3 separate regions of the Homo sapiens genome follow, and all the other regions are linked to region 2. Evidence: fine-mapped expression QTL. A gene starts in region 2. Each other region holds a variant in brackets. All regions are shown on one strand. Distances are from middle to middle. Region 1 has its middle 52 kb from the start of TEX13C. Region 2 holds the start of TENM1 (teneurin transmembrane protein 1). Region 3 has its middle 24 kb from the start of TEX13C.

The links. PIP is the estimated chance that this variant, and not a neighbour inherited with it, causes the effect. A credible set is the group of variants that fine-mapping cannot tell apart.
Region 1: its variant is the best candidate, but not a certain one, in a credible set for the expression of TENM1 in whole blood (TOPMed, PIP 0.75).
Region 3: its variant is the best candidate, but not a certain one, in a credible set for the expression of TENM1 in blood mononuclear cells (TOPMed, PIP 0.54).

What each region holds. Positions count from the first base shown.
Region 1 is chrX:125,262,453-125,272,828 of GRCh38, reverse strand. No RefSeq gene overlaps it. Among named protein-coding and RNA genes, the nearest start is that of TEX13C, 52 kb to the left of the region's middle. The variant T/G (reference allele first, on the strand shown) is at 6,193.
Region 2 is chrX:125,199,751-125,210,126 of GRCh38, reverse strand. It overlaps TENM1 (teneurin transmembrane protein 1), which reads left to right and starts at 5,815. Exons shown (of 35, transcript NM_001163278.2): 1 at 5,815-6,323. LOC124905211 (a long non-coding RNA gene) reads right to left here and starts at 5,667. Exons shown (of 2, transcript XR_007068314.1): 1 at 5,428-5,667; 2 at 2,007-5,085.
Region 3 is chrX:125,290,241-125,300,616 of GRCh38, reverse strand. No RefSeq gene overlaps it. Among named protein-coding and RNA genes, the nearest start is that of TEX13C, 24 kb to the left of the region's middle. The variant C/A (reference allele first, on the strand shown) is at 4,700.

The DNA of each region.
Region 1 (10,376 bases), 63 kb before region 2:
TATATAATATATATAATATATCTAAATGTATTTATATAAAATATATACATAAATATATTATATATGAATATATATAAGTATATATATTATATAAATGTATTATATGTAAATATATATGATATATAATATATAAATATGTATTATGTATAAACATATATAATATATAAATATGTATTATATATAAATATGCATAATATATAAATATGTATCATATATAAATACACATAATATATAAATATATATTATATATAGTTATATATAATATATAATTTCATATTATATGTAAATATATGATATATAAATACATATCATATATAAATATATATAATATAATTATGTATTATTTATAAATATATAAAATATATAAATACATATTATATATAAATATTGATAATATATAAATATGTATTACATATAAATATATATAATATATAAATATGTATTATATATAAATATATATAATATAAAAATATGTATTGTAGATAAATATATATAATATGTAAATATGTATTGTATATAAATATATACAATATAAAATATGTATTGTATATAAATATATATAATATATACATATGTATTATATATAATTATATATTATATAAATATATATTGTATATAAATATATATAATAAATAAATATGTATTATATATATAAATATATACATTCTCTACAATCTACCTCAAAAGTTGAAAGCAGAGGGAATATTCCTAACTTTTTCTATGATGTCAAAATTAATATTAAAATCAGACAATAAGATTACAAGTAAACCATAAGCAAATATCTCTCATAAACACAGATACAGAAAGGCTCAATTAAATACTAAGAAGTGATTCCAACAACATGTAAAAAGACATACACCACAAACAAGCCGGATTTTTCCTAGGTATAAAAGGTTGGCTTGACCTTTTAAAATCAGTTAATTTACTACATAACATCAACAGATTGAAAAAGAAAAATCTAATGATCTTATCTATAGATGCAGAAGAAACATTTGACAATGTTCAATGCCCATGAATGATAAAAGCCTTCAACAAACTACAGATGGGAATGGGGACATCCTCAACTTTATAAAGAACCTCTGCAAAAAACCTAGAGCTATCTTCATACTTATTGGTGAGAAACTTGAAGCTTTCCAACTAAGATCGTGAATAAGACAAGGATTTCCTCTCTTACCACTCCTTTTCAAAATCACGTGGAAAGTCTTAGCTAATGCAATAAAACAAGAAAAGAAAATATATACATATAGTGATGGGATAAATAGTTTTTGTTCACAGACAACATGGTCTTCTGTGTAGAAAATCTGAATCATAAAAAAAACCTGGAACTAATAAACAATTTTAGCAATGCTGCAGGATATGAGGTTAACACAGAAAAGTCAATCACTTTTCTGCATACCAACAATGAACAAGAGAAATTTGAAATTAAAAACACATTGCCATTTACATTAGCATCCCTAAAAAAGAAATGCTTCATATAAACCTAACAAAATATATACAAGATCTATATGAAGAAAACTACAAAAATCTCACGAAAGATATCAAAGGAGAACCTTAAAAATGTAGAGCTATTTTATTTTCATAATTAGGAAGACTCAATATTGTCAAGATACCAGTTCTTTCCAACTCTGTATATTCAATGCTATACGAGTCAAAATATCATCAAGATATTTTGTGGTTATTGACAAACTTATTCTAAAGTTTACATGGGGAGGTCATATACTCTGATAGTCTTTCCATATAAACCTTAGAATAGCCAACCCAATATTGAAGAAGGAAAACAATCAGGATCCTGACACTACCCAACTTTGAGACTTACTATAAAGCTACAGTAATAAAAACAGTGTCATCTTGGTGAAAGAATGGACAAGTAAATCAAAGGAACAGAATAAAGAACCCAGAAATTGACCCACATAAATATAATCACCTGATTTTTGACAAAGGAGCAAAAGCAATACAATTGAGAAAAGATAGTCTTTTCAACAAATGGTGGTGAAACAATTGGATATCTATATACCAAAAAGTGAATTTAGACACAGATTTTGTGCCCTTCACAAAACTTAACTCAAGTGCATCATAGATCTAAATGTAAAATGTAAAGCTATAGAACTCCTAGAAGATCACTTAGGAGAAAAACTAGATAACCTCGGATATGATGACAACTTTTTAGATACAACATCAAAGGCATGATCCATGAAACAAAAAATTAATAAGCTAGACTTCATTAAAATTAAAAACTTATGCTCTGCAAAAGACAAAGCCAAGAGAATGAAAAGACAAGCTACAGATGGGAAGAAAATATTTTCAAAAGACACACCTCATAAGAAAATATTCAAAATATATAAAGAACTCTTAAAATTCAAGAATAAGAAATTAAAAGTCTGATTAAAAATGGGTAAAAGACCTGAACATATACTGCAACAAAAGAGATAAACAGATAGCAAGGAAGCATGTGAAAATATTTCAATATAATATTTCATAAGAAAAATGCAAATTATAACAATACTGAGATACCACTACATTACCTATTAGAATGGCCAAAACTCCAAACACTGACAACATAAAATGCTGTCAGTGGATCTACCATTCTAGGGTGGGGAGGGCATTGGCCTTCTTTTCACAAGTTCACTAGGCAGTGCACCAGTGGGGACTCTGGGTCTCTCCTACTAGATATAGGATTATGATTACTACAATTCAAGGTGAGATTTGTGTGGGGACAAAGCCAACCATATTATTTCAACCCTGACCCCTCCCAAATCTCATGTTCTCACATTTCAAAACACAATCATACCTTCCCAACAGTCCCCCAAAGTCTTAACTGATTCCATCATCAACCCAAATGTCCAAGTCCAAAGAAGGTCATTATATAATAATAATAAAAGGGTCAATTCAGCAAGAGGATATAACAATTATAAATATACATGCACCCAACACTGGATCATACAGATATATAAAGCAAATAGTATTAGAGCTAAAGAGAGAGATAGACCACAATACGATAGTAGCTGAAGAATTCAGCACTCCACTTTCAGCATTGAATAGATCTTCCAGACAGAAAATCAACAAAGAAACATCTGACTTAATCTGCACTAGAGACCAAATGGATCTAACAGATCCATTTACCGAACATTGCATCCAATGGCTGCTGAGTACACATTTTGTCCTCAGCACATGGATCATTCTCGAGGATAGACCATATATTATGTCACAAAACAAGCCTTAAATCATTCAAAAAATGAGATTACATCAAGCATCTTCTCTGAACACAATGGAATAAAACTACAAATCAATAACAAGAGAAATTTTGGAAACTATACAAACACATGGAAATTAAATAATATGCTCCTGAATGACCAGTGGGTCGATGAGGAAATTGAGAAGAAAATGGAAAAAATTCTTGAAACAAACGATAATGGAAACACAATATACCAAAACCTATGGGATATAGTGAAAGCAGTACTAAGGGGGAAGTTTATAGCTGTAAGTGCTTACATCAAAAAAGAAGAAAAACTTAAAAAACAAACCTAATGGTGCATCTTAAAGAATTAGAAAAGCAAGAGCAAACCAAATCCAAAATTAGTGACAACATGAAATAATAAACATCAAAGCACAAATAAATAATTTTGAAATGAATAAAACAATACAAAATATCAATAAAATATAGTTTGTTTTTTTGAAAAGATAAACAAAATTGACGGTTCTTTAGCCAGACTAAGAAAAAAACAGAGATGACCTAAATCAATAATATCACAGATGAAAAAGGAGACATTACATCTGATACACAGAAATTCAAAGGAATATTAGTGGCTACTGTGAGCAACTACATGCCATTAAATTGGAAAATATAGAAGAAATAGACAAATTCCTAGACACCTACAGTCTACCAAGATTGAACCATGAGGAAATTCAAAACCTGAACAGACAAATAAGAAATAACAAGATCAAAGTTGAAATAAAAATTGTTCAAATAAAGCCTGAAACTCAATGGCTTCACTGCTGAAATCTACCAAACATGTAAAAAAGAACTAATAGCAATTCTACTCAAACTATTCCAAAAAATAGAGAAGGAAGGAATACTTTCAAACTTATGGTATGAGGCCATTATTATCCTCATACCAAAACCAAAGACATATCAAAGAAAGAAAACTGCAGGTCAATATCTCTGATGAGTATTGATGCAAAAATAATCAACAAAATACAGCAAGCCAAATTCAGCCATATGTGAAAAAGATCATTCATCTTGACCAAGTGGGATTTATCCCTGGGATGCAAAGATAATTCAACATATGCAAATCAAGCAATGGGATACATCATATCAACAGAATAAAGGACAATATGGTCAAATCAATAGATGCTAAAATTCATAAAAAGACCTTTGATAGTTGATCAGAATTGGTGCTTTTTCTATTATTATTAATAAGTAATAATAAAACATGACTTCATAATAAACATATTTATTGTTTGTCATACTTCTATAAATCTCTGCCCTACAATCACATAAATTTGCATAAATTATATTTTATATTATTTCCATAAAAAAGTTTAAATGGTTCTTTTATAATCACATTATTGAGTGTAATACTAACTGTAGAGAACATTTGACTAGACTCAGGATAACTTAATCCTCTTTTTATAATTTTATACATTTAATGATGGGAAGACTTTTGCATAGACGGGTTTTTGGCTTTGTACATTTCAGATCTTGCTATTCCTCTACTATCTTCATATTTCCAGTGCTGGAAGCTGTAGCTGTTGTTCATATCACAACGTGACTCCAGGTTTTCATCTTCATGTTGTATGCACAGAAGGTGGTAGGAATATTTGTGGAAGCCACTCCTACCCTGGGGCAGGTAATAATAACTATACATGAATGTGACTGTGGATCATGTAGATATATCCTACTGAAGTCAGACTAAATAATCTCCAACTGAACTTCTTCTGAGCCAGTTCCCTAATGTGCCTGTTGTCACTTGAGTCCCATTCTATGCAAGGAAGAGTGAGTGGGGAGAAAATATAAAAGAGATATTGGTTAAAAATACTCATTCTGTCTTGCCGGCTGCCATGTAAGACGTGCCTTTCAGCTTCCACCATGATTGTGAGGTCTCTCCAGCCACGTGTAACTGTGAGTCCATTAAACCTCTTTTTTTTTGGAAAAAAAAATATATATATATGTATATATATATATGTGTGTATATATATATATATACATATATATATATATTTGTATTAGTCTGTTTTCACACTGGTGATAAAGAAATACCCAAGACTTGGAAGAAAAAGAGGTTAAATGGACTCACAGCTCCACGTGGCTGGGGAGGCCTCACAATAATGGTGGAAGGCAAGGAGGAGCAAGTCATGTCTTGCATGAATAGCAGCAGGCAAAAAGAGAGCTTGTGGAGAGGAACTCCCCCTTGTAAAACCATCAGATCTCCTGAGACTTATTCACTATCACAAGAGCAGTATGGGAAAGACCTGCCCCCATGATTCAATTACCTCCCACCGGGTCCCTCCCACAACACTTGGGAATTTAAGATGATATTTGGGTGGGGACACAGCCAAACCATATTATTCTGCCCCTGGCCCCTCCTAAATCTCATGTCCTCACATTTCAAAACCAATCATGCCTTCCCAACAGTCCCCTAAAGACTTAACTCATTTCAATATTAACTCAGAAGTCCACAGTTCAAAGTCTCAACTGAGACAAGGTAAGCCCCTTCCACCTATGAGCCTGTAAAATCAAAAGCAAGTTAGTTACTTCCTAGATACAGTGGGGATACAGGTATTCAATAAATACAGCCATTCCAAATAGGAGAAACTGGCCAAAACAAAGGGGCCACAGGCCCCATGCAAGTCGGAAATCCAGCAGGGCCATCAAATCTTAAATCTCCAAAATGATCTCCTTTGACTCCATGTCTCACATCCAGGACATGCCGATGCAAGAGGTGGGTTCCCATGTCTTGGGCTGCTCCACCCCTGTGGCTTTGCAGGGTACAGTCTTCCTCCCAGCTGCTTTCCCCAGCTGGTGTTGAGTGTCTGTGGCTTTTTCAGGTGCACAGTGCAAGCTGTCAGTGGATCTACCATTCTGGGGTATGGAGAATGGTGGCCCTCCTTTCATAGCTCCACTAGGTTGTGCCCCAGTAGGGACTTTGTGTGGGGGCTCTGACCCCACATTTCCCTCTGCACTGCCCTAGCAGA[T/G]GTCCTCCATGAGGTCCCTACTCCTGCAGCAAACTTCTACCTGGGCATCCAGGAGTTTCCATACATCCTCTGAAATCTAAGCAGAGGTGCCCAACCCAATTCTCGACTTCTGTGCACTCGCAGGCTCAACACCACATGGACGCTGCTAAGGCTTGGGGCTTGCACCCTCTGAAACCATGGCCCGAGCTCTACATTAGCCCCTTTCAGCCATGGCTGGAGCATCTGGGTTGCAGGGCACCAAGTCCCTAGGCTACACACAGCATGGGAACCCTGGGTCCAGCCCATGAAACCATTTTTTCCTCCTAGGCCTCTGGGCCTGTGATGGGGGGAGCTATCATGAAGACCTCTGACATACCCTGGAGATATTTTCCCCATTGCCTTGGGAATTAACATTCTGCTCCTCATTACTTATGCAAATTTCTGCAGCTGGCTTGAATTTCTCCTTAGAAAATCAGTTTTTCTTTTCCATTGCATTGTGAGGCTGCAAATTTCCCAGACTTTTACGCTCTGCTTCCCTTATAAAACTGAATGACTTTAACATTACCCAAATCACCTCTTGAATGCTTTGCTGCTTAGAAATTTTTTTCAAAAGATACCCTAAATCATCTTTCTCAAGTTCAAAGTTTCACAAATCTCTAGGGCAGGGGCAAAATGCCACTAGTCTCTGCTAAAACATAAAAAGAGTCACCTTTGCTCCAGTTACCACCAAGTTCCTCATCTCCATCTAAGACCATCTCAGCCTGGATTTCATTGTCCATATTGTTATCAGCATTTTGGTCAAAGCCATTCAACAAGTCTCTAGGGAGTTCCAAACTTTCCCACATTTTCCTGTCTTCTTCTGAGCCCTCTAGACTGTTCCAACCTCTGCCTGTTATCCAGTTCCAAAGTAACTTCCACATTTTCAGGTATCTTTTCAGCAGTGCCCCACTCTACTGGTACAAATTTACTGTGTTAGTTCACTTTCATGCTGCTGATAAAGACATACCCAAGACTGGGAAGAAAAGACATTTCATGGACTCACAGTTCCACATGGCTGGGGAGGCCTCACAATCATGGTGGAAGACAAGGAGGAGCAAGTCATGTCTTACTTGGATGGCAGCAGGCAAAAAGCTTGTGCAGGGGAACTCCCCCTTAGAAAACCATCAGATCTTGTGTGACTTATTCACTATCATGAGAACAACATGGGAAAGACCAGCCCCCATGATTCAATTACCTCCCGCTGGGACCCTCCCACACATGTGGGAATTCAAGACAATATTTGGGTGGGTCACAGCCAAACCACAACAATCTTAGTTTTACAAATTTTGCAAAACCATGTGATGATGCAAATATATCACTAGTGCTCTGTTGTGCATTAGGGTGTACCCTAATCCAATGTGACTAATGTCCTTGTAAGAATAAGATATTAGGACAGAGCCACACACAGAGGGAAAATCATGTGAAGACACACAGAAAAGATGGCTATCTACAAGCCAAGGAGCGAGACCTTAGACAAAAATCAACCCTGCTGACCTCTTTATCTTGGACTTCCAGCCTCCAAAATTGTGGGAAAATACAACCAGTCTGTGATGTCTTGGAAGTCATAGCAATTGATACAGTCCCATTAGGGTCTTTCGAGGGACCCATTCTAGTAAGGGTTTCCTGAATCTTAAGCTTCATTAGTTTCATCATAAATCCATCTCTATCTGTACCACACAGTTTGTCACTCAATTTTGTTCTATCTTGTATCACTAATTTATAATTCTTTCCAATTTTATTTTAAGTGCCTTGAGGATATTGACAGTTTTCCAAGTCTTCAACATTCACTCCCATCCATGTTTTATCCCTCTAATATCCCAAGATAGGATTAGATACAGAGTGTATCTATTAAATAACATTTATTGAATCATTCATCACATCTATATGTAATCTCACCTGGAGTTATTAAAGGTTTATTAAAGAGAGCCTTTGTCATCTCCATAAGATTAAATACTCTTCTGTGAGTCATGGCTATTTTTGCAGTATTGATGTTCACATAAACACTTTTGTTGAAAGCCAGAGTAACTTTAGTATACTAGCAAGTGCTATCATAGGCTAAAATTAATATGCATGCATATAATACTAAATATCAGGTATCAAATAAATATTTATTAATAACTAGAAACCAGGAAACTAATTTATATCTTGGAAGCACATAAATATTATGAAAAGAGAACTACAGTAACTGATCAAATAAGTATAGAGAGTCATTAACTTCATTATTGTTGAGATCATGTACTACTCAAATTAATAAGTTGTTAACACAATTTCCCAAGAGTGTTATCCTCACCCCACCTAATTCACAGAATCTGAGTATGAAAAGCAATTTTATATATGCAGAATCCTACTTTCACTTTTTCACATTTCATGATCTTGGAGGGTGCATGTAAACAAAGATTGAATTTAGAAAATAACTAATGCCTATGTAGATTTAAAAGTAATTAGAAACATCCTAAATCCTGTCCGTTTGTAATGTGTTGCTACAAAATCTGTTCTTTTTATTGATGAACTTTTAAAATTAGCTTTATTTCTATTTGCTGTTGTTAAAAATTACTGTTGATTTAATTATTTTCCAGATTAATAATTGAATAGGCTTTACTCATAATTTATTAAATAAAACATACAGAGGTGTGAACGAAAATTAGTATTTTCATAGTGGTTTATTTGATTCCACTGACTGTTTCCCTGTTTCCTAGGTATGATCTAGGAAACATAGTTTAAAATATCTAGATACACATGCAAACCCCAAACTTCTCATGATAAGCCCCAGATAGACTTTCTTATGGCTAAATAAATAAATATAATGCCACAATTGAGTAAGCCAGTCTGTTTCTTCTGAAACTGAGCCGTTAACTGTCAAAAATGGTAGACATGGCCATAGTGAAGGTGTTATTATATTAGAATAATTATTGTATTATTATATATTATCTTATTGATAGGGACAGGAGGCAGAAAAATTCTAGGCAGAAAAGGATGGGACCCTTGGAGAAGCCCTACCCTGGAGCCTGGAACCATGGCCCAAAGTGAGAACATGCATTCTTGTTTTCCTGCTTGAATGTTGCCTTTTCCAATACCTCCCATGGCCCACCCCAGCCCACATCCTGTACCCACAAAAACCCTAGGCTCCACCAGTAGAGAGCAGAGAAGGGGAAAAGAGGAGAAACAGCTGGATGTCAGAGACTGTGGCTTGACATTGGAGAGAAGCAGCTTGACCTCAGCGAGACTTCGGAGAAGAGTATGGCCTGAGATGGCTGGACTTCACGGGAAGGATACCTTCCCACTCCATCCCCTTTACAGCTCCCCATCCCGCTAAGAGCCACTTCCATCAGCAATAAAATCCCCAGCATTTATTATCCTTCATGTGAACTAATTTTTCCTGGACACCAGACAAGAGCTCGGGATACAGAAAGCTGTCACACGGACCCTCTGCTCTTGCAAAAAGGCAGAGGGTCCACTGAGCTGTTGAACACTTAAGCCATCTGTGGACAGCAAAGCTAAAAGAGCACTGTAACACATGCCCTCTGGGGCATCAGGGGTCACAGGCACCTCCCTAGACGGGGGCAGCACAGAGTTTTGCTCCTGCCAGCACCCAAAAGTGTTCGCTCCAGCTCCTGCACCCACTCCTCTACATGCTCCCCCTCCTGTGAGGGGTTGAGAGCTGCAGGCTGAGTAAGCAAGGCATCCCTGTCCTGAGTCCCATGAAAGGGGTCAAGGAATAGTTCCTGTTTCATCATGACGTATACCAGCAAGTTTCATCCAGCAAAAGGAATTAAAAAACGAAATAAGTACTATATCTTCCAAATATTATCATATAAAGAAAAATTATAAGTATAATAAATGTAAGAAAACAGGTGGCCAACTAGATTTTTTAAAACCATAAGGTAGAATGAAATGTACAATAAAGATATTTCAGTCAATGGGAGGCAGAATGTTTAAGGTGTATCTATGCAAATCCTCTCATCTTTTAGTTGTAGATCAATGTTTTATATATGATAAAATATTAAACATCATGAGCATCTTGACTAAATGATTATAGCTCTAATTCTTGCTTTGTTATTTAGCCAATAACACATTGCTGTTGATGGTTTCAGCTAATGACTGTACCAAGCAAAAAATCTTTCTTCTTTTTAAACTGCAGCACTAAAAGCTAAAATGTGTTTCATAAG
Region 2 (10,376 bases):
GGGCAAGAATATGTATGTTTTGTTTACCACTGTCTTCCCAGTACTTAGCACCGAATAGGCACATAGCAGGTATTCTGTAAATCTTTACTTAGTGAAAGTATAAATGAGAGAATGAAGATACATACGGGGAGCCTATTTTCTTAGTCTGAGAAGAAATTATTCATGTTTATTGTGTTGTATGGAAAATGATAACATCCTAGTTCCAAATTTTCATTTAAAATGCCTTTTAAATCTGCTTATGAAGGACTATCCTAATAATTGTTAGCATTTGTTAGTAATTGTTAATGTATGTGACTATAAAAGTCTTCTTATGGCCATTATTAAGCATGTGTTTTAGAAGCACTAAATATTTTAGTTATTTCAATACAAATTAGTAGTTACCTGTATAAGTCAATCACAATAATTCACTTAAAAGATTATGATAATGAGGTCACAAAGTTAGAGAGAAGTTCAAGTGCATTTAAATGCCAACCGAGTAATACTAATTGTTCTATACTCTTTTCAAGTTCTTTTCCTGGAGTGTAATTTTATCTCTTAAGGAGAAATCACGGTACATTTTGAAATCAATTTTTTTCCCCTTTTCAACAACTGTGATAGTTAAAAAATGCTAAAAAGTAATATTCTTAAAAGTATTTCCAATAAAAAGACAAACACTAGCATTAAGTCAGCTTTCAGATCTTCAAGGGAAGGCACTATGTTATCTTTATGAGGGTATAAATTATTATTATTGCCATATTGGTTTATGTGTATGGATAGTGAATATAAGTGAATTTTATATAAATTAAGGACCAAGGTACCATTTTTAAAACTATCTATAAATTTAAATTTAGGCAGTTATTTGAATCCATTATAGCAATAATACAAATGAATTGCCACTGCACCCTATTGAGAAGCTTTGGTTTCTGAAGGTTATGATTAGTCTGTATTAGGGATGTATTTTATTCTGAGAGTAAGGTAAAGCAGCATTGATGGAGCCTTTCCAGTGAGGGATATTATATATGAATGTACACTTCCATGAGCAGAACTTGCTGTGTGGAATACAAAGTGCCTTGCTAAAGCCCAAACTTTTTTTTAAAGGCATTTTGTTTCTCCTTCGCACTCTGGCCAGAGAAGTAGCTCCACAGGGTCCATTTGGATACTAAATAGGATTAGGTAAAGAGAAGACTTTAATTGGCTTGCCAGTTGTTTTCCTGAGCCTTACTTGGGTATGTGAAAAATAGTGTGTCTGACTCTGTTCTGAACAGATGGATGCAGAATCCTGGCCACCAACTGTTCATATCCAGGCTCAAATAAGCTTCCTCCAAGGTGGCTGCTTTCCCCAGGGGGAGCCCACAGCTGGCCGGAAATGGGCACTCCCTTGCAGCAAGCTGGTGACTGCAATTTTACAGCCCTGTTTATGGAAGCTGTTTGGGTAGAAAATCATTAAGCTACCTTTCCTGCTTCCAATCATTGTAGCCAAAAGTTAAGGTGCCAGCACTACTCATAATCTCTGCTAGTTGATCTCTGGATGGTGTTGTTATCAGTTGAAATAGGAAATAATAGTCTACCACAACGAGTACATGTTGAAATTATGCCTTTGAAAACATCTTGCCATTAGACAAGCAACCAAACAAAACTCCTTCATTTCAGATGGTGCACATTGATTTTGTTTATGTAATTGATATTGACTTTAGTCTTCTAATATTGATATGGTTTGGTTGTGTTCCCACCAAATCTCATGTTGAATAGTAGTCCCCATAATCTCTGTGTTTCATGGGAGAGATCCTGTGGGTGGTAACTGAATATAGGGGTGGTTGCCTCCATGCTATTCTTGTGATAGTGAGTGAGTTCTCATGAGATCTGATGGATTTATAATGGGGGGCTTTTCCACCTTTTGCTCTGCACTTCTCCTTGCTGCCACCATGTGAAGAAGGACATGTTTGTTTCCCCTTCCACCATGATTGTAAGTTTCCTGAGACCTCCCCAGCCATGCTGAACTGTGAGTACAATGAAACTTCTTTCCTGTATAAGTTACTTAATCTCAGGTATGTCTTTATTGGCAGCGTGAGAATAGACTAATACAAATATTATTGTACTTACATTCTTATTATGAGGGTACTTAGAAACAAAACTGACATGTCATATTTTCCATTATGCATTCTTCTCACAGAATGCAACCTATAGATTAAAAATATATTTAAAAAATCAAGGCCAGAACATCTAAATATTGTTCTCTAGGAGTGAAATAGTCTAGATACACGGTAACAGTCACACAGTATATACTTGTTGATTAGCAAATTGTTCACACATCTTTGAACATTTCTTAGCTTCTTTAAGTCTCAATTTCTTTGCCTATTCCCAATGCTGGCACAGTTCCTGGAATATAGTAGATGTTCCATAATCACTTGCTGAATTGAATTTATGTAATTACATTAGTTTTGGGAATAAACATAAAAAGGTGTATGAGTGCATGTGTGTGTGTGTGTCTTTGTTAACAAAAAGGTATATATCTTAAAATTCCTAGCAAATTATTTTAATAATATACACTTGGCAACTGGACAACTGTCATATAGAGATTGCATGCTCCATTACAATCTGTTATATTTACATTGGCTATTCTGAAACTAGCAATTTAGTGTGTCTTCTTCCTGATATTCATATTTGAAATAGAAATTCTTGGTCCCATGAGCAAAACTACTTGAAAATTCTGCAATTTCATGTTGCTTAAATGTGTCTGGGGAATCTCTAAAGTTGAATAAATGCCTTAGGAAATCCACCTACAATATCAGGATATAGGCGTCTAGAAGCAGCAAATCAGTTCTTAGGAAACAGAGAAAAGTGACAGAGCCCTCTGTACTTCGGAATTAGGACTGGAAACAATGTTTTGAAGGAACTAAAGGGAGACAGGTGCAGACCAAATGAATTAAGGACACCAGGGAGCCACAGGAGACCAGTAAGGAAATGAGAGGGAAGAATGCTAGAGAAAATACAGCATAAAGAGGAGGTGGTAGAGAATTTCTAAAAAAAAATGATTACAGGGACTGCTGAATTGCCAGGAGAGAAACAAACTCGGCCTCCTTTCATGAAATCCCTAAGTATCAACTCTCCCTTTCTGCCAGTATCTTCAAGAAGAGTAACAAAGGAACAGCAAGAATGAGAGTGAGATAATCATGCTTTTAAATTCATATTCCATTTCCTTGGTCATTAGGGTTTGTCCATGTCCCATTTGGCCAGAATTCCCTTTTTGTTATGGGGAGTTCTTTTCTTAATCGCTGGTTACGGAAACACCCAGAGTATTTCCAGTCATTGGAGAAGTGACTGGCCAGATGTTTCTTTTTTTTCTCCTTCCAGAACTCTTTGGTAAGGATTGAGGAGGTATCCTGAAAGTCTTCCTTCCACAGTTCAGGGTTTGGGCAGTTCATAATGTGGAATCTTTATTTAGGATACTTAAATCTATATATGTTTATACAAATAACTTGTTTTTGTTTTGTAGGAGGGTAGTGGGTTTTAGGAAGGTTTCGTTTACATATTTGTGGCAAGACACAGGTTTTATACCCATCCTTTCACTACTGCTTTCTCAACAGCCCAACAGAGAGCCGGTGATAGAAGCAGTTGCTATGCCCCTACAGAGCCTGGTTGTCATCTTTTGTTTCTTTGTTGGCAGGGCGGTGGGGCGGGACGGGAGTGGGAGGGTGTTGAGCCGCAGGGATCCAAATGATTCCTGCCTGAAGCTGAAGACCTTGTTGGGAAGGGACGATGGGAATAAACGTGCTCTTGATTCCCTGATTCTTCCCCCTAGAGTGTTCAGCTCTTTGTATTTCCTCCCCTTGGTGGTGTGATGGTCTTACAATGCTCCCTCTTTGCAAATACCTATATCAAAAGCTGGGAAAATGGGAACACACGGTTCAGAGAACTCCCCCTGGCGTCACTCTGTACTACCTCTCTTTCTGAAACTGAATCTGGTCCCCCTGCTCAGGAGCACAGAGACCAGCCCGGAAGCCGACCTTGGGCAGCTGCCGCCACCCAGGGAAGGGAACAGTTGGAAGCTTTGGTGTTCGCCCACCGCGCCAAGAGGAACTCTTCCCGGTAACTAGCACCAGCCACGACTCCAAGCCTGCCTTATTGTAACCTCTAGCGGGTTCCCAACTCGGCAATAGCTTCTCGCTCTCCTGTCCCTGTTCTTGCGGAGGAAAATTTAAAACGTGCGTGCACATATACGCATTCACACACGCCCTTCTTTCTTTACTTAAAAAAAAAAAAATCAGTAAACGTCCTTCGCCCAAAGAATGTTCGACTCTTCACGCTCTCTTTTCTTTACCTAGAGGTCAGCAGTCCCTTGGGAGCACACGCGGTGCTCCCTAGCTGCTCTGCGCGCCCCCTACCTGCCTACGGCTGGGGTGGCACCGCGGGGCAGGAGGCCTGGGAATCCGCTAGACTCCTATTTCTCCAGTTTGTGCAGCTCCCCTGGCTCGGCACTTGGTATCTCCCACGGTCTTGCTCTCTGTGGGAAGCCGGAAAGAAGACTGCTGTGGGCGTCGCCGCCACCCCTCCCGGAACCAGAGCCTGCTCTAGCGTGCATCCAAGCCTCCTACTTCAGACTCACATCTGGCCCAGTCGGACAGATGTTAGCCGCTGGAGAGTGCCTCCATGCGAAGCGCCCCAAGTCCCGAGCATGCCCAGTCGGACTACTAAGGCTTCTGACGCGAGTTTCTGGGCGTGCAGATTCCGCTTCTCCGCTTTTTCGAGGAAGCTGAGGAGGGTTGGGAGGGAGGGAGGGATCCAGGGCTTGGGGCAGCGCGCTGGGTTCGCCCGAGTACGTGCCCTGGTGCCAGGCTGGGTGAGGGGCGGAGCCGTTTAGGGAGCCCAGGAACCTGGGCGGCCAGGCAGGGCAGGATCCCTTAGCGCTCCCCTCTTCCCCCAACCACCTTCAGGTGGACGTCGTTACTGCTGATCTGATGCGCCGCCAGTAGGCTGCATGTGGCCGGCCGGCCTTGGCGCTCTGGGGTCACACTGTCAGCAGGACGCAGTCGGCGGTGCACTCTCACCGACAGACGCACGAGAGCTTGTGGGTCGCTTATGCACCGCATTCACGGGCTTTTGGCTTTTCTGGAAGGCGGGGGAGAGGAGAATAAGAAAAGGAAACCAAACAATTTCTCTCCCCCCGCCCTTTTTTTTTTTTTTTTGCCAAAGTTATACTGGCAAAAGACTTCGCATTCTAAGTCAGTCCTGAGGCTTTGAACATAGAAGCAGTGATTGTGCTCCTGTGTGTGCGCTCGTGTGCGCGCGCGTGTGTGTGCACGCGATGTTTGTGTATGTCATGACTAGGTAACACTGTCCCAGGCTGATCCTGGGGTTGACAAATACTCATCCGAACCCCCCACCCCACCCCTCACCCTCAGGAGAAAGTAATTAAAAAAAAAAAAAAAAAAAAAACATCGAGTGAGTCACCTGGCCAGGCATCTATCCACTGTAGTAGGAAATCTAAATTTTGTTGATCCATATTTCCTTCCTCTGCTTCCATATCCAGCTTTCTCCTTCCCCTCTCCACCCTATAACACCCTGATCTTTCTCATTGCGACTTCCCTTCCTCTGCCCGATACTTGCTCCTTAAGCCCTTCTCCTCTTTCTCCTCCTCCTCCTCTCCCTCTCCTCCTCCCCCCACCTCCCTCCACCTCCCATCTCAGCTGCGGCTAAAACCTGGAGTCTTGGGGAAAAGGAGAAAAAAAAAAAAACCTCGGCTGTGAAGCTGTCAAACCGGGCATGCTCAGTAGACAGGGCAGGTTTTTTGGTCTCGAGTAGCGGAGAAACATTTTTTGCACCACCGCGACCAGCCTTAGAGCGCGGCGGCGGCGGCCACGGCAACATCAGCCCAGCCATCAGCCGAGCAGACGCCCAGCACCCGGGAGCGCGGCGAGCTTCGGCTCAGCCCGGAGTTCACCTCCGAGTGCCCCGGGGGCTGAGCTCACCCCTTCTGCTCTCTCACACACGAACACTCTCTTTCACTCACACACACACACGTATTCACACTCTCTCGCACACACATAGGACCCTGGGCGCAAGCACCCTTCTGGCAGCGGTCGTCCGCTGGTGCAATAGTAGCTAGGTTCGGTTCCTGCCTCCGGCGGCCGCCGGTTTAGAGCACCGCTGCCAGCAGCCGGAGGAGAGCAATGCGGGGGCCCGAGCGGCAGCTCGAACAGTAATGTGGATTTACAGTCGTTTCCCGCAGGAGTCGGCCGAGACGCCCTAAGTCCCGGGCACTGGCAGCGCCCGGCGGAGCCGAGCACCTGGCGAGGGGGCGGGGGAACAGCACCTGGGGACGCCGCCGAAACTTGCGCTTGGAATAGGTAGGTGCGTTTCTCCTGGCTCCCACCCCATTCCTTCTCGCTCCCGCCCGCCACCCCCAACCTTCTACCCCAAGGACTACAGGCGAACTTCGCCCCGAGGCTGCAGGCGGCGGATGGCGGCTCCTGGCTGTTAGCGGCCGGTTGAGTCCGCTCTGGGACTCCTGCCCGAGGTGGCAGAGCCTCCGCATCCTTCTTCTCCCGGTCTCCGCCGGCCATGGGGCTCTGGACCATCTGGGGCAGAAGGGAGGTCGGCCTTGTTCGCAGTTCAAGCTTCCAGCGGGCCCTGGGGACGCTGCCCTTCGAGGGCTCGCTGGGCTTCCCAGGCGGCACTTTTACCAACCAACTCCTTCAGTTCTGAGAGGGAGCCTCCTCGCCTCGGCTCTCGCGCAGAGCCCAGTCACTCTAACAAGTGGACCTGGGTGCTTGGGGTGAGGATGGGAGGCTCGGTCTAAAAAGAAAGAAAGGGGCGCTTCTCTGGCATCCCTCCCACCCTGGAGCGTTCGCCTGGGGCTCTGCCACTGGGGTCCAGGTCCTGCTGTCTCCGCAGAGAATATGCCCAAGGGCTAGGACGCACTTTAGTACCTGTTTGCTTCTGAATTTCTATTTGAGCCTCACTCAGGGAGCCCGGGTTCCCGGGGGAACTGCAGGACCTCCTAACCTACGCCGCCGTCGAGGGCCCCACCCGATGCGTCCTCCCTATACCTTTGTCAATCTTTGTCAAAAGAGATAGTCATTACAACCCAGGCGGTGCTCCAGGAGCCGTCGGTGTTGACTTTAACCATGCGCTCCAATGTGCGGGTTTGTGTGTTTCCGCATTTCATCCAGAGACTTGGTCCCCGAGATTCAGCAACGGCCAGCATATCTGCGAGCGCCAAGCACCCGCTAGGCAGGCTTGGGGAAATGTAACCTCACTTTCTTCCACTCCATAACAGGAGGATTGCCAATTTAGTTTCAGGATGCTTTGCCTAGAGGCGGAGAAGGGGAGATTGTTAGCGCTACTTGGTGAGTGGATGTGTTTGCAGTCAGGAGTGTATTTAAACATTTCAGTGAACCCGATGCAGTCAGTTGTTTACAATTGCGGAGACAGAGGATCTCACTCCACTAGTAGATGTTTCCACGTCTGTGTCGCCACTGGGAGAGTAGGGGCGGGGGCGGGGGCTGGTTTGCAGCTCGTACTCGCCGTCGGCAGCTTCGGGTTGAGCAGATCTGCATCACTGCTACTGGCGATATGCTAATAGGGGTAGAAAAGCTCTACATCTCCAATATGAAGCAATTGGTCAGTAAACGTCCTGAACTTAACCGTTGTTTTCCTGGGATACCAACCTGGAGGTGTTTTTGAGGTGGCCCAAAGAAATACAAAGAGAAGTTCTCAGTGCTACAGAAAGGAAATTAGTAGCCATTTGGTTTTAAAGACCAAAAGGAAACGAAACATCCCAGTGCACTCTAATAGGTACTGTTAGATTAGCGTTTAATTGATCGCGTTTGTGACGAGTAAGTGTCGCAGACAGCTTCCTTGAATTTTAGACTCTTGTTCTATGATTATAATTAACAAGCCAGGTAACAATGTACTGTGAGAATCAATTGCTACTCTTAACGTGTTTGAGGAGAACATGGCAAATGTCTGCTCTATTATATTTTTTGGCTGAAATAGCCCAGTTCATCTTCCTAGTCCGAAGTCTTCTGATCTGGAGCAGTAGATACTCCAGTGTTACCAAGAAAGGGAAGAGTCTAAGAGGGAAAGGCTTAAAAAACAAAATTAATGAAAAGGCGATCCACACCTTTAACTTCTGCTCCATGATTACCCAGCATCTGCTTGCTTGCTCACCCCCGCTCCTTGCTCTTCATATCTGCAACGTGGGGAAAAATGAATTTTCATAAGGCATAGTAAGACCCTCAAAGTACATAACTGGAGAAACAGAATCCCAATTTTGCCATTTTAGTTCAAGTTCATAACACTATTTTGTGATGCATTAAATAATTTACTATGGCAAAGTTGGGGTTTTTAAGAGTAATTAAAAGCTTTCAGGTATGACAAAATAATGTTGAAAACTTTTCATGATTAAAGAAAGTCGAAATATGCATTTAAAAAGGGATCAGGTAATTCCTAAAATAAATCCATGCTCTAAATATTATTTAAAAGTTTTCAGGTTGTTCCCCAGAATGTTTCTGAAAAACAGGTGTTTCTATAAAACAACTCTATGAAGAAATGTTAACATTTTCATAATAAAACTAGTAGAGTCCAGTCCTGAGAACAATGTCAGCTATACATAGCAGAAAAAAACCCCACAAATATTTTTGCATACATGAAGTAGTATTTTCCATTAGGTTTAGGTTCCAATTATGAATTAGGGACAGTCATGTCATTTGACAAAATATACAGTGAGGCTAAAGGAAAGAATGCTTTGTAGAATCATTGTGCTGTAAAGGTGATTAAGATTTCAAATATTCAAACGTTTAGGTGTATTAAAATAAAATTGTATTATACATAACTATCATCACATTCAAAGGCCTAATTCAGTCTGAATACCCTAGAATTCTCAGTGTTTCAATTCAGCTATTATATGTGTAAATAACACCGACATAATCATAGTTTCCCTCATAGTCATTGATCCTTTCTGATACCTTTACCAGAAAGATTCTTGCTGAAGCAGAACAGTCTAGCATTCAAGTTTATTCTATACAATATTACTTTAAATTGTCAAACTGCAAAACATTCCTGATATGTTGTTTCTGAAAACAGAAAACTTAGTGGAAATTTATTTTCTGTGACAGCCTTAAAAACTTGGAAGTAGTAAGAAATTTTAGTGTTAATTAATAAAACAAACATTTTTCATATTCTATGTTAGAGATAGACATTTGGAGTCCATATAATTTTTGCTTGAAGCTTGCTTTTCCTAAGTCATTCAGTTTCAGATTTAAGTAAAGCTATCAAGTAGTTGGTATAGATTATGGTTAATAAATTCCCTAAAGTTTCCCAAAACAAGTTAATTATTATTATTTATGCATTTATTTATTTACTTACTTATAAATGACCAGAGGTCAAAAGAAGACCAGTACTTTGAATAACTGAGTCAGTGATTAATTTTTTTGATGAAAACAAATTTTCTTATAGTACTCATATTTGTTCTCTCTCTCTCTCTCTCTCTCTCACACACACACACACACACACACACGGAAGCAATTGCTTGTGAATGCCTTGAATCAGATATAAAACATGTACAATAGCTTTATTAAAATTATATATATTTGTTAAATTGCTGTGGATTTTAACCACAAAATTAATAATCCATGCGTACTTAAAAAGCTTCCCATCACTTAACATTTAGAAGAAAGGTTTAAACTGGATTCCTAGTATGACTACAGGCAGATGAAAAATATTGTAAGGTACAGAATTTAGCAATTGTGACCAACAGCATATACCCACGACTGGAAGTGTAACTGCTGATTATAAAAATTAAAAGGAATCAAATTTCAGAAATGCTCACATATACCACAATTTCTTTAAATCTTCTACAGCTTCTGAGTGTTAGATTAAATCACTACTTTGAATGGAGATTGCTATTATTTTTCCTTCCCCTAAAAGGTAAAAATATTCTGAATCCTGGCTTAATATATTATTTTTATTCCTTTCTGTTTTCCATTGATTTTTTTTAGAACAGAGGAAAGTAAATATCAAATATAACCAGCTAGAACCATGCTTAGTTTGAGCAGGTGAATGCTATAAAAGGCTTCACACAGCTTTTAATTATTCTTAACAACCTTGATGACCAACCATAGGTGTCTGTTCAGTATTCGGTGCTCTGTTATGGCAATTTATATAATGTATAGAGATTTTGTAGTTTGCTAGACGTGCTGTGGTACAATTTAGCAAGACCAGCAAAATTGCTTACATTTGGAACCCATGAAAAATAGGGCTGAGGAAATTGGAATATGATGGCATAGACTGAAAATTATTATATAACAATATTTATATCAATTGCAATGCTAACATTTCTGTATAGAAATTAAGCTAATTTAAATTTGAAAAGTAAATATTTTTACAGGTGACATGGA
Region 3 (10,376 bases), 90 kb before region 2:
ATTCTTAATAATTCGGCCTTTGACTTTGTGTTTTGAAAGTGAAGTCCAATAGAACAATGGAATATGCACATGAGCAGAGAAGATATGCCTTGTGGCAGCATACACACCACAAGTTCAGACCCAGGAGCATAGTAAGTGTTGAGCAGTTAGCTTGGCTGCCTGAGACACACACACTGGCCTGGGACAGGTTAGGGGTCTGCAGGGACCTAAGGGAGTAATCTTAGGCCATGACCTGAGCCCAGATATCGAGCTCTGCTGGTAGCAGCAGTAGAAATACCAGTGGTGGTAGGAATAGTTGCATCCTGGGAAAAAGGAGGGGTTCCATATAAGGAAAATGCTGGGACTCAAGATGGGTGATAAGCTTGCGTGTTCTGGCATCGCATCCCTGCAGCATCTGTATAAATACTAACTCTGGGCAGGAACTGCCAGAGCTTAGTCAGTAAACTTTGCCAGTGAATTACTACAAAACAAAAATAAACACATGAACATTGCAATAAAACATATCAACAAATTATTAGAATTCTTTAAAGTGTATAGAATTTCTAAATTTGAAAACGGTTGCAACATTACAGAATGAATATCCATGGACTTAGTAATAGCAATTAAATTTAAAGAACACAATTTTTTATTAGAGGCTTTACATTAATCAATTATTAATAAGGAAGAAAAATTTAAAATTGTTTTTCTTTGTAATTGAATATATAGCAATAGAATGCATAAACAGCCATTTTGAATTGGAAATAAATCATGAAACCACTTTCAGTTTCTTCTACCACCTTCTCAAATTACAGAAAATGTCAGAGAAAACATTAAAATTCCATCATATAAATTTACATTTACAATTAAATTTAGTCTTAAATGAAATTGATTTGAATGAAGAGTTAAATCTTTTTAGAAAAATTGTTCTGCAAGAAATATAAATTCCACATGTACTAAAACTTATATTTAGACCTAATTTATCAGAAATCATCTCAATATTATTATAGCCTATGTAATACTCTTAACAGTGGTATCAGCAGAAAGATCCTTCTAAAAACTTAAAAATTATCAAAAATTATTTGCATTCTTGTATTTGCCAAGAGCAACTGACACCACTTTCAATTATAGCAATTGAAATTTAAGTGGCTAAAAGTGTGTATTTTGATGACTTTAATAAATAAATGTACAGAAAAGTGAGCCAGAAAAATCTTCTGACGGATCAAGATGTCATGTTAATAAAGTACGATTGCCTAGGCGCGATGGCTCACACCTGTAATCCCAGTACTTTGGGAGGCCAAGGCGGGCTGATTGCTTAAGCCCAGGAGCTTGAGATCAGCCTGAGTAACATGGTGAAACCCTGTCTCTAGAAAAAATAGAAAAAGTAGCCCGGCATGGTAGCACACACCTGTAGTCCCAGCTGCTTGGGGTGCTGAGGTAGGAGGATCACTTGAGCCTGGGAGGCAGAGGTTGCAGTAAGCTGAGATCAGACCACTGCACTCCAGCCTGGGTGACAGAACAAGACGCTGTCTCAATAAATAAATAAATAAATAAATAAATAAATTAAATAAATAAATAAATAAATAAATAAATAAAATCATTTATTATATTATATAAAATTATTACACCAAAATATTATTTTCTTTGCATTAAGTTCATCTTGTTATTCATGTATCTACCCCATTAAGTTTATAAGTAATGAAATATTTTTTAAAAAAAGTTTTATATTTTAATACCCTAAACTACACATTTTTCTTCTTTTTGAACAAAGAGTCTCATATTTTCATTTTTCACTAGGCCTTGCAAATTATGTAGCCGATCCAGCTTGCAAGTATTACCATAGAATAAGAGAAACAGAGATGATCTTTGTTATCCTATCAATAAACTTGTATTTTAATAGATATAGCATTAAGCAAATGAAGCTATGGTATTGTGGTAGTTACTGTTTTTGTCATGCTCAGGATATTCTCCCAGCCCCATATCTTATAAAAAGAAGTGAGCCTGTGACCTAGGCTGAGACCATCATAGCAACCCAGCTGTATGATCCCACTGATTGGCCCACGGATGAACAAGCCAGAACGATCTGAGGTCTTCCTCGGGATTATTCAGCTAAATGTGGTAGGGAAGTGTCTCTCTTCCCTGTAGTTATGGAATTGTAGGGATGTCAAGGAACTATAAGAATATGACTCTATGGGTGTCAGAGGCCATTTTCTCCACAAAGTGGAGAAGGCTGAAAGGAAGAAACTAACATTCAAAGCAACCAATAGTGGGTAGAAGAGGGAGAAAAAGAGAAAGGGAGAAAAAAAAAAAAGACCCATAGGATTGAAATTGTATTTTGCATACTTGAGATTCCTATAGCTGCCCTGTCCTTATAGCTTTTTTTTTTTCTTTCTTTCTTGATTAGGAGAGCTACTCTACATGTATTTAATATATTCACTTCTCCCTCTTAAGCTAGTGGGAGTTGGATTTCTCTTGCAACCAATATAATCCAAACTAATAGATGGATGATAACAACTTTATATTTGTGAGCATTTCATAACATATCATAGAAACTCTGAATAGCCAACAGCAATAATTCAAGAATAATTGAGATAGAATTACCATACATGATCAAAATTAAAATACTAATTTTTGTGGAGAATTTTATAATGTGTAATATATGTACAGTATGTCATTTCACCTTTACACCAATTCTGTGAGCAAGACAGGATAAGTATTAATATGTTTCTGTCTTCCACACATTAGATGGGAAGCTGCATAACAGAAAAAAATATATATCTTTTTCAGATTTTGCAATTACCTGGCAGAAAACCATATTTTACAAATAATGAAACAGGATATATTGGCCCAAGGCTACACAAATGGTAAGTGACTGGTCAGAGACTGGTTCCCCTGGGCATCTAGCATTTTGTGTTTTGTGATAGGCATTATATTTGACATTACAGATACAAAGGTGAGGAACATCCTAGTCCTCCTTCTCTTAAAGAATTCACAGTCTAGTTCACAAAGAAGGACTTCTCAGATATTTCTGATATATCCCATGCTGTCCTGTTGAAATCACTCAGCTGGTGATAAGTTTGAGGTAAAACACTTTGTATTACTAGCTTATATTCACAAAAGGATCTTGAAATGTTCAGTGTTTATATATTTAATCATATTTTAACTTTTATTGAATGGTAAAAGAATTTTCCCCCCGCCCCCTACCAAAAAAAAAAAAAAGATACAGGCCGGGTGCAGTGGCTCACACCTATAATCCCAGCACTTTGGGACGCTAAGGCAGGAGAATTGCTTGAGGCCAGGAGTTCAAGATCAGCCTGGGCAACATAGTGAGACCCTATTTCTATTTAACAGAAAAAATAATAAAAGTAACAATAATAAAATTTAAAAATTACTCAAACTGTGGTGGCGTGCATCTGTGGTCCCAGCTACTTGGGAGGTTGAGATGGGAAGATCACTTGAACCCAGAAGGTTAAGGCTGCAGTGAGCCATGTTCATGTCACTGCATTCCAGCCTGGGTGGCACAAGGAGACTCTGTCAAAAAAAAAATTCTTCCATAGGAAATCTGGCATATCCAGTGTGGGACTAGAACCTGGCATATACTAGACACTTACTACTTAATGAGTTGTATTGTTGCACTTCCCAGCCCTATCTCTAATAGTTTTCTTCAGAGATGATATATTAGGGTAGTTTAGTGATTGGGAACTCAAGTCAGATAGAACTGTGTCAAGTCCCAGTTCTGCCATTTATGACAGAACTGTAATAGTAACTCCATTACTATTACAAAGTTTAATAATCATTTTGTGCTTTACTTTTCTTACCTGTAGTATGACAATAATAATAATACTTATAAGATTTGTTATGAAAACAAAATATAGTGTTGCAATATAAAGTACTTGGCCTATATGTTGCAATGTAGTACATTTTAAGTTTTGTTTTTTCTTAATTCTAAGTCAAAATAATGTTCGAGATGATGGATATGCTAATTATCCTGATTTGATCATTATGCGGTGCATGCATGTATTGAAATATCACATTGTCCCCTATGAATATGTATAATTATTATGCATCAATTAAAAATAAAATTTAAAGAAAAGGGAAAGTGATTAAGTAATCAAAACAGTGTAATCTATAATAAATAAAAGGCACATAAAATGCTATGATTGTGCATGTTCATGATTAAACATGATTAAATAAACATAAAAAAGCTATATAGACACCTCACCTTTTTTAGACTTCTTAATCTTAAAAATGGTTTCATTATTTAGTTTATAATGCATATAGTACTTTGTTGTAACTTTATTACTAAATATCACTATTTAGTTCCACTTTGACAATAATATCAATCCCCAAAACACATTATTTGCAAGCATCTAGTTTATGAAACGTGCGTGATTCATAGATAATTAAAGTTAAAATGAATTACAAAGTAAATTTTTAAAACTTCTATAGTTGAGCTTCACAAGCCACACCTATTGCAATATCCTTTTTCCGTCATTTACTTCCCTATTCAGAATAACACTATCCAAACTTCTTTTAGGGCATTAATATTATGTAAGTCTAAACGTGAATGTGGAAGTACTCAATGGATTAACTTAAGTATCTTGTTAATTTGTATTAATTATCTTAATTTTTTCTATTCTCGTTTTCAGGAGATTTGAATAACAAAGTAGCATGCATTGATTAAAATTCTAAGTTGACAAAAGCTATTAATTTAGGAAACATA[C/A]ATTTTATGCAAAATGTGGTGTCACGCAAAGACTTATTTATTTCAGTGTAGGATAATCCAGTATGGTGATCAAGATGCATACAGATCATATGCCAGCTTCAGCTCTGTAATATTTTTCTTTAGGGAAAAATGAAGAGCTGTCTTCAGAAGCTGCAATTTCAGGCATTCTTTATAAACACTGTGAATAGTTGCTCAAGTCCAGTTAATGTATTTAATATCGACAACTATCATGACTATTTGGATTGCAAAAGACTTCTTTTATTTCATAACACTTTCTTAGTCTAAATCACTGGTCTTTAAACTGCAGTCCATGAGTCATATCTAGTCTGCCAACCAATTTTTAAACAAAGTGCTATTGGAACACATCCTCCCACACTCTTTCATTTATGTATTAGCTACCTCCTTGGCTTTATGATGGCACAGTTGACTAGTTGTGACACAGACAGAAGGGCCCTTGACAGAAAAAATTTGCTTAAGTCTGGTTTAAATCATTTGCACCATTACGTCATTTCTCTACTACCTTGAATATCTCCAGTCCAGTGGAAGCTTCACTAAGCCAAATTTGATTTAGGGGATTCTTTCAACTATGGTAATGTATTTTCACTTTCTTTTCTCAGTTAAATTCTTTTAGATTTAGTATAGACCCACTGGCCACATTTAATAACCAAAGATCCACTCCATGCCTAACTGTTCTCTTTGAAGTTTCCTAAACTTCCTTTAAACAAATTTCACAGTCTCCTTTTAATTCTCATTATTCTAAACCTTTCATGCATGACAATTATGATCACCCTACCAATACAGAAGTTCTCTCTCATTTCTTGGCTCTAAATTATAATAATATCCTGTTTTTCTCTTTTGTTATAGTCTTCTTTGGCTCATCTTCTTCCTTTCACTTTCTGTGTGCATTCTCCTAGGCCATTTTATATTCTCATGCTATGCGTATCCCTAAAAAAAACTAATTTATTTTCATAGCTTTAACTATCACATCTATGACTGCTGACCCCTAAAAAGACCACCAAAATATCTTGTTGATCTGACAAAGTTGAATGTATTCTGTGTTGTATTAAGAGAAAACACCACCTTGATAGACTTTTAGTAGTGTCTTGGAAGGGGAAGGGAAAGGGCAGATCTTCATACAGTTTTGGGATTTGTCTTAAGGAAGGTCTTTCAAAGAAGGGATCTGCCTGGAATCGGAAAAAAAAGTTGTAACACAGATTTTTAGATTGGTGAATGCAGCAAAGCAAGAATTTTGAAGTGTCCTGATGAGTAATCATTTGATAAGCAAGCAGTTTGCACATTGAGTGATCTGTCATCCTGAGAATGGTGATATTTACCCTGATGAGTAACTTCTTGCCTTGAGCAGGGCAGCTAACTGATCAGCTTATTGTTCAGATAAAAACCTTGTTGCAACTTTATTTTCCTAGGCAATAATGTCCTGAAATAGTAAAGTAATGTTAACCTTGACAGCCTTAGTTCTTGAACTCATTAAGCAGTATGTTTGCAGGAAGTTTGTTCTCACTTCTAGTCCAATAACTTGCAAATAATATCTATAAGATACAGTCTCACTTACTCTAGATGACTGCTATGCCAGGTCCTATTTTCAGTTTCATTTTTATTAATGGTACTAATATACTTCAGGAATCCTAGGTTTGAAGCCTAGGCATTATATTTAACTGCTCTTTCAAAATGACTCCCAGTATTCAACCAGTCATCAAGTTTTGTCTGTTTATAATCTCTTTGATAAAATCCTCCAAAAAGTGATGAGACTAGCATAAGGAGGAAGTAATGAGCAGCCAGGGCTACTTCCTCAGATAGACTGAAGGAAAAGGTAACTTCCTGAATGAAATAATGGTTATGTATGTTAAAGCAGTGTCACAATTACTCAATTACTTGTTAGCCTGAGTCTAGGGTTACACAACTTCCAGAACTGTGATGTAAAAAGAAAAGGTTAAATTGCAAAACAAATGATAGGAGAGAGAAATTTGGAAACCACTAGCAAAACTGAGTGCAGTGCTGTGAAATGTCTTCATCAAGATCTACAACCAGTTAGAAGTTAGAGGTCTGGTATGGTTTGAATGTGTTCACCAAACTTCATATGTTGGAAACTTAATCCCCAAAGTAACAATGGTGGGAGGTAGGAACTAATAAGAGGTGATTAGGTCATAAGGGTTCCACCCTCATAAATGGATGAATGTTATTATCATAGAAATGAGTTCTTTTATCTCTAGATGGGGCTTATAACAAAAGCGAGTTTAGCTCCCTCTTGCTGTTTTGCTCTCATGCTCTCTTGCCCTTCCACCTTCCACCATGGGATGATGCAGCAGGAAGGCCCTCACCAAATGTTGGTGCCATGCTCTTGGACTCCCCAGCTTCCAGAACCGTGAGTCAAATACACTTTTATCATTTACAAATTACATGGCTGTGTGGAGTTAGCTCATGCCTGTAATTTGAATACTTTGGGAGGCTGAGACGTGAAGATGGCTTGATGTCAGGAGTCCAAGACTAGCCTGGACAACATTGAGAGACCATGTCTCTATAAAAAGTTTTTAAAAATATTTTCATTGATTAGAAAAATACCTAATTTGAGGTATTCTGTTACAGCAACACAAAATAGACTAAGACGGGGTCCCTATAAAGTCAATTTCAGTATATAATCAAGGTTGACTAATAAGAAAAGAGTAAGTATTGGCTGATTGAAATAATGAACCCTTACCATCTTTGTGAAGCATTCAGGAATAAAAGCAAAGTATTGTTGCTCTGTTCTAACTTTCTCTAGAGGATAGAAACCATACGACCATTAGCTGACTATTCTTCCTCAAGAACATAAATTCCTTCCTTCCCACTGACCACCAACATTCTGATCATGGATAGTTTGATATTTGGGGAATTGTGGATTCTGGTTCCCAGTTGGCAATGAATTCTTCACCACAACAAACAGGCTTGAGCCTGTTTTCGTGATTCTGTGAATGTCAGGTCTTTCTGATAAAAATTAGTATTCACCAGTAACTAAAAAACAGATAGAGGCTATCTGTCCTTAACCCTAAAAACCTGGCTATGAGGAGAAAACAATCCTCAGACCAAATTCCAACAAAGGTACTCACATTTCTTCACAACCTGTTTATAGATAAAAGAGGCCCCTCTTTCTATCCTTAAGTCCACCTTGCATAAAAAGTTTACTCTAAAACAAATGCAATTGCATTCTTTCACCTAAATGGCAGAATGTGGAAGCTTGTCGTCCTATCAAGGGGTAAGATTTTCAGTGAAAAGGAGATGCAAGACCAATAAGTTTCAGTCCTGGAATGTACCTATGACACAAGACTTCCGATTTCCAACACCTTGCAGATTTCCAACACCTTATTCATACCAATGAGGTTGGTCCTCTTGCACTATTCACAGACAATCACATATCTAAAATACTGTTATTTTTTCCAATCAAAAAATATTTTTAACATTCCTGTGCAAATTGGCCAACCCTAAGTTGATGTATTCATTTAAGATACCTCACCTGCTAATTAGCCCCAAGTGTTGCTTCAGATAAAGACATTTCATATGCTAATTAGTTACCCCTGGGATTTTAATTAGAATTAACTTTTTAATGTTATTCATCACATTGTTTATACAGCCATGATGTATTTTAAATTCCACTCAGACAATATAACTCAGTAAATGCTGCAGGCCCATATATGTATAAACATCATGAAAGCCCACTCCATACTCCATAGCCTGGCTGGCAGAACATAGAAGAACTACATTTCAGACAAGTGGGATGAGCCCAGCCTGTTAGCTCTGCCTCTTAATGTATAATTGCACGTTCTAAAATTTCAAATATGTAGCATTATCTTCTTCTTCTCTGAATTCTCAGAGCACTTTTGGATTTATTATAAGATCCATAAGGAAAGGATCCAGTTTGTTTTGATCACTGCTCTGTTCGTGGCTTACAGAATCGTTTCTGATGAATGAATGTATCAATGAATAAACACATGAATGTGTAAGCTCAGTGATCCCAGACTATGACTGAATCTCTCTGAGCCTCTGAAGTTTCCTTATACATAAAAAAGGAATAGTAATAATACTTACTTTATATTACTAATGTCATATTCTTAACTCAAATGCACTTTACATGGTGCCACTACATTAATTTTCTTGAAACACTATTTTATACAACCTTATCACTGCACTTACCATATTGTTGTATAATTATCTCTTTCTGTGTCTGATTTTCCCACTGGACTATGAATTTGTTGAAGGCTGACACATGATATTTTATATTGTGTCCCCAGATCTAGCACGGTGAAAAGCACATATTAGGTCTCAATGAATGCTTGTTGAATGAATAAATCTGCTTGAGTCATTGCAATGGTTGAAATGAATATAACCATAATTTATATCAAGTATCTGAGTACCAAATTTAATTTTATACTTATTTTCAAAGTTTGCCCACTGTAAATATTTCTACTTTATTATTAAATTGTACCATGCTAAAAAGTTAGGTTTTCAAAGGAAATTAATTCCTCAGAGTAAGTTAACTGAGCCAGTTGATTTGTGGCTATGTGTACAAAGGCAAATGAAATAGAAAGTTGAGTAATTGCTCTGTCAATTTAGTCAATATTGACAGCCACTCTGGAGCACACAGTTTACTTTTTACTTAAATAGTACAGATAATTGTCTCAAATCTAAAAAGAAAGAATGACCCTGCATTTGTTCCCCATATGACATAAAACTGGTTACTGTGAGATGGAAAATTAAACCATATAAAAAGGTACTAGTATGAGGGTACTAATTCCTTAGGCATCAGAAGTACTTACTTATAAAGTTCTTTTCCCTTTAAGATAGCTACATGGTATGACCCTTAGGGAAAACGCCTCTGAAGACTCTATAGTTTTCAAGGAAAGGCACCAAAAAATTGAAATACATTTCCACCCTAAACACATTACTGACAATTCCACATCAACAAACAAGCTTAATCCTTCTTTAGACATATTTGTCTTGCTAGTTAAAAAAAAATTACTAGAACCATGACATTCCCAGTTATTTTGGAATAACTCTAAAATAAGCAGAGACCTTTAAATTCCAAATACTGAATTTTTAAATATGAGCAAAAGCACTTGAAAATAAACATTTATATTTTCATTTATAATTCTTCCAAATTCTAATTATATTTTCTGCATTCTTATCTGCATATGATTTTTACTTAAAACCTAGATGATGGGTTGATAGGGTGCAGCAAATCACCATGCATATGTATACCTATGTAACAAACCGGCACATTCCGCACATGTATCCCAGTACTTAAAGTTAAAAAAAAAAAAAAATCTGAAATTATTAAAAGATGTATATTTTTGCTTATTTTAAATTCATTTTTATTAATTGATAGTATCACCATTCATTAAAATTATATAAATTGATTTAAATATTAAAGCTAAGCCTATGTAAATTAAATGCCATTTGTTAGTAAAAATTGAATTTTGCTAAGAGTTTCAGGTTGATTTAGTTGCAATTGAGCCCTAAATTTAGTGCTCATCTTCTTGGACTCAAACATAAATTGAAAACATTATGGGATTTTATAGTTCTTATTGTCTAATAATAGAAACCAAAAATATTTGTCTACAGAGACAAATGTTACCAGCATTTAATTATTGTATGAATGCTTTGAGGAGCATGGCATAGACTTTGAGAA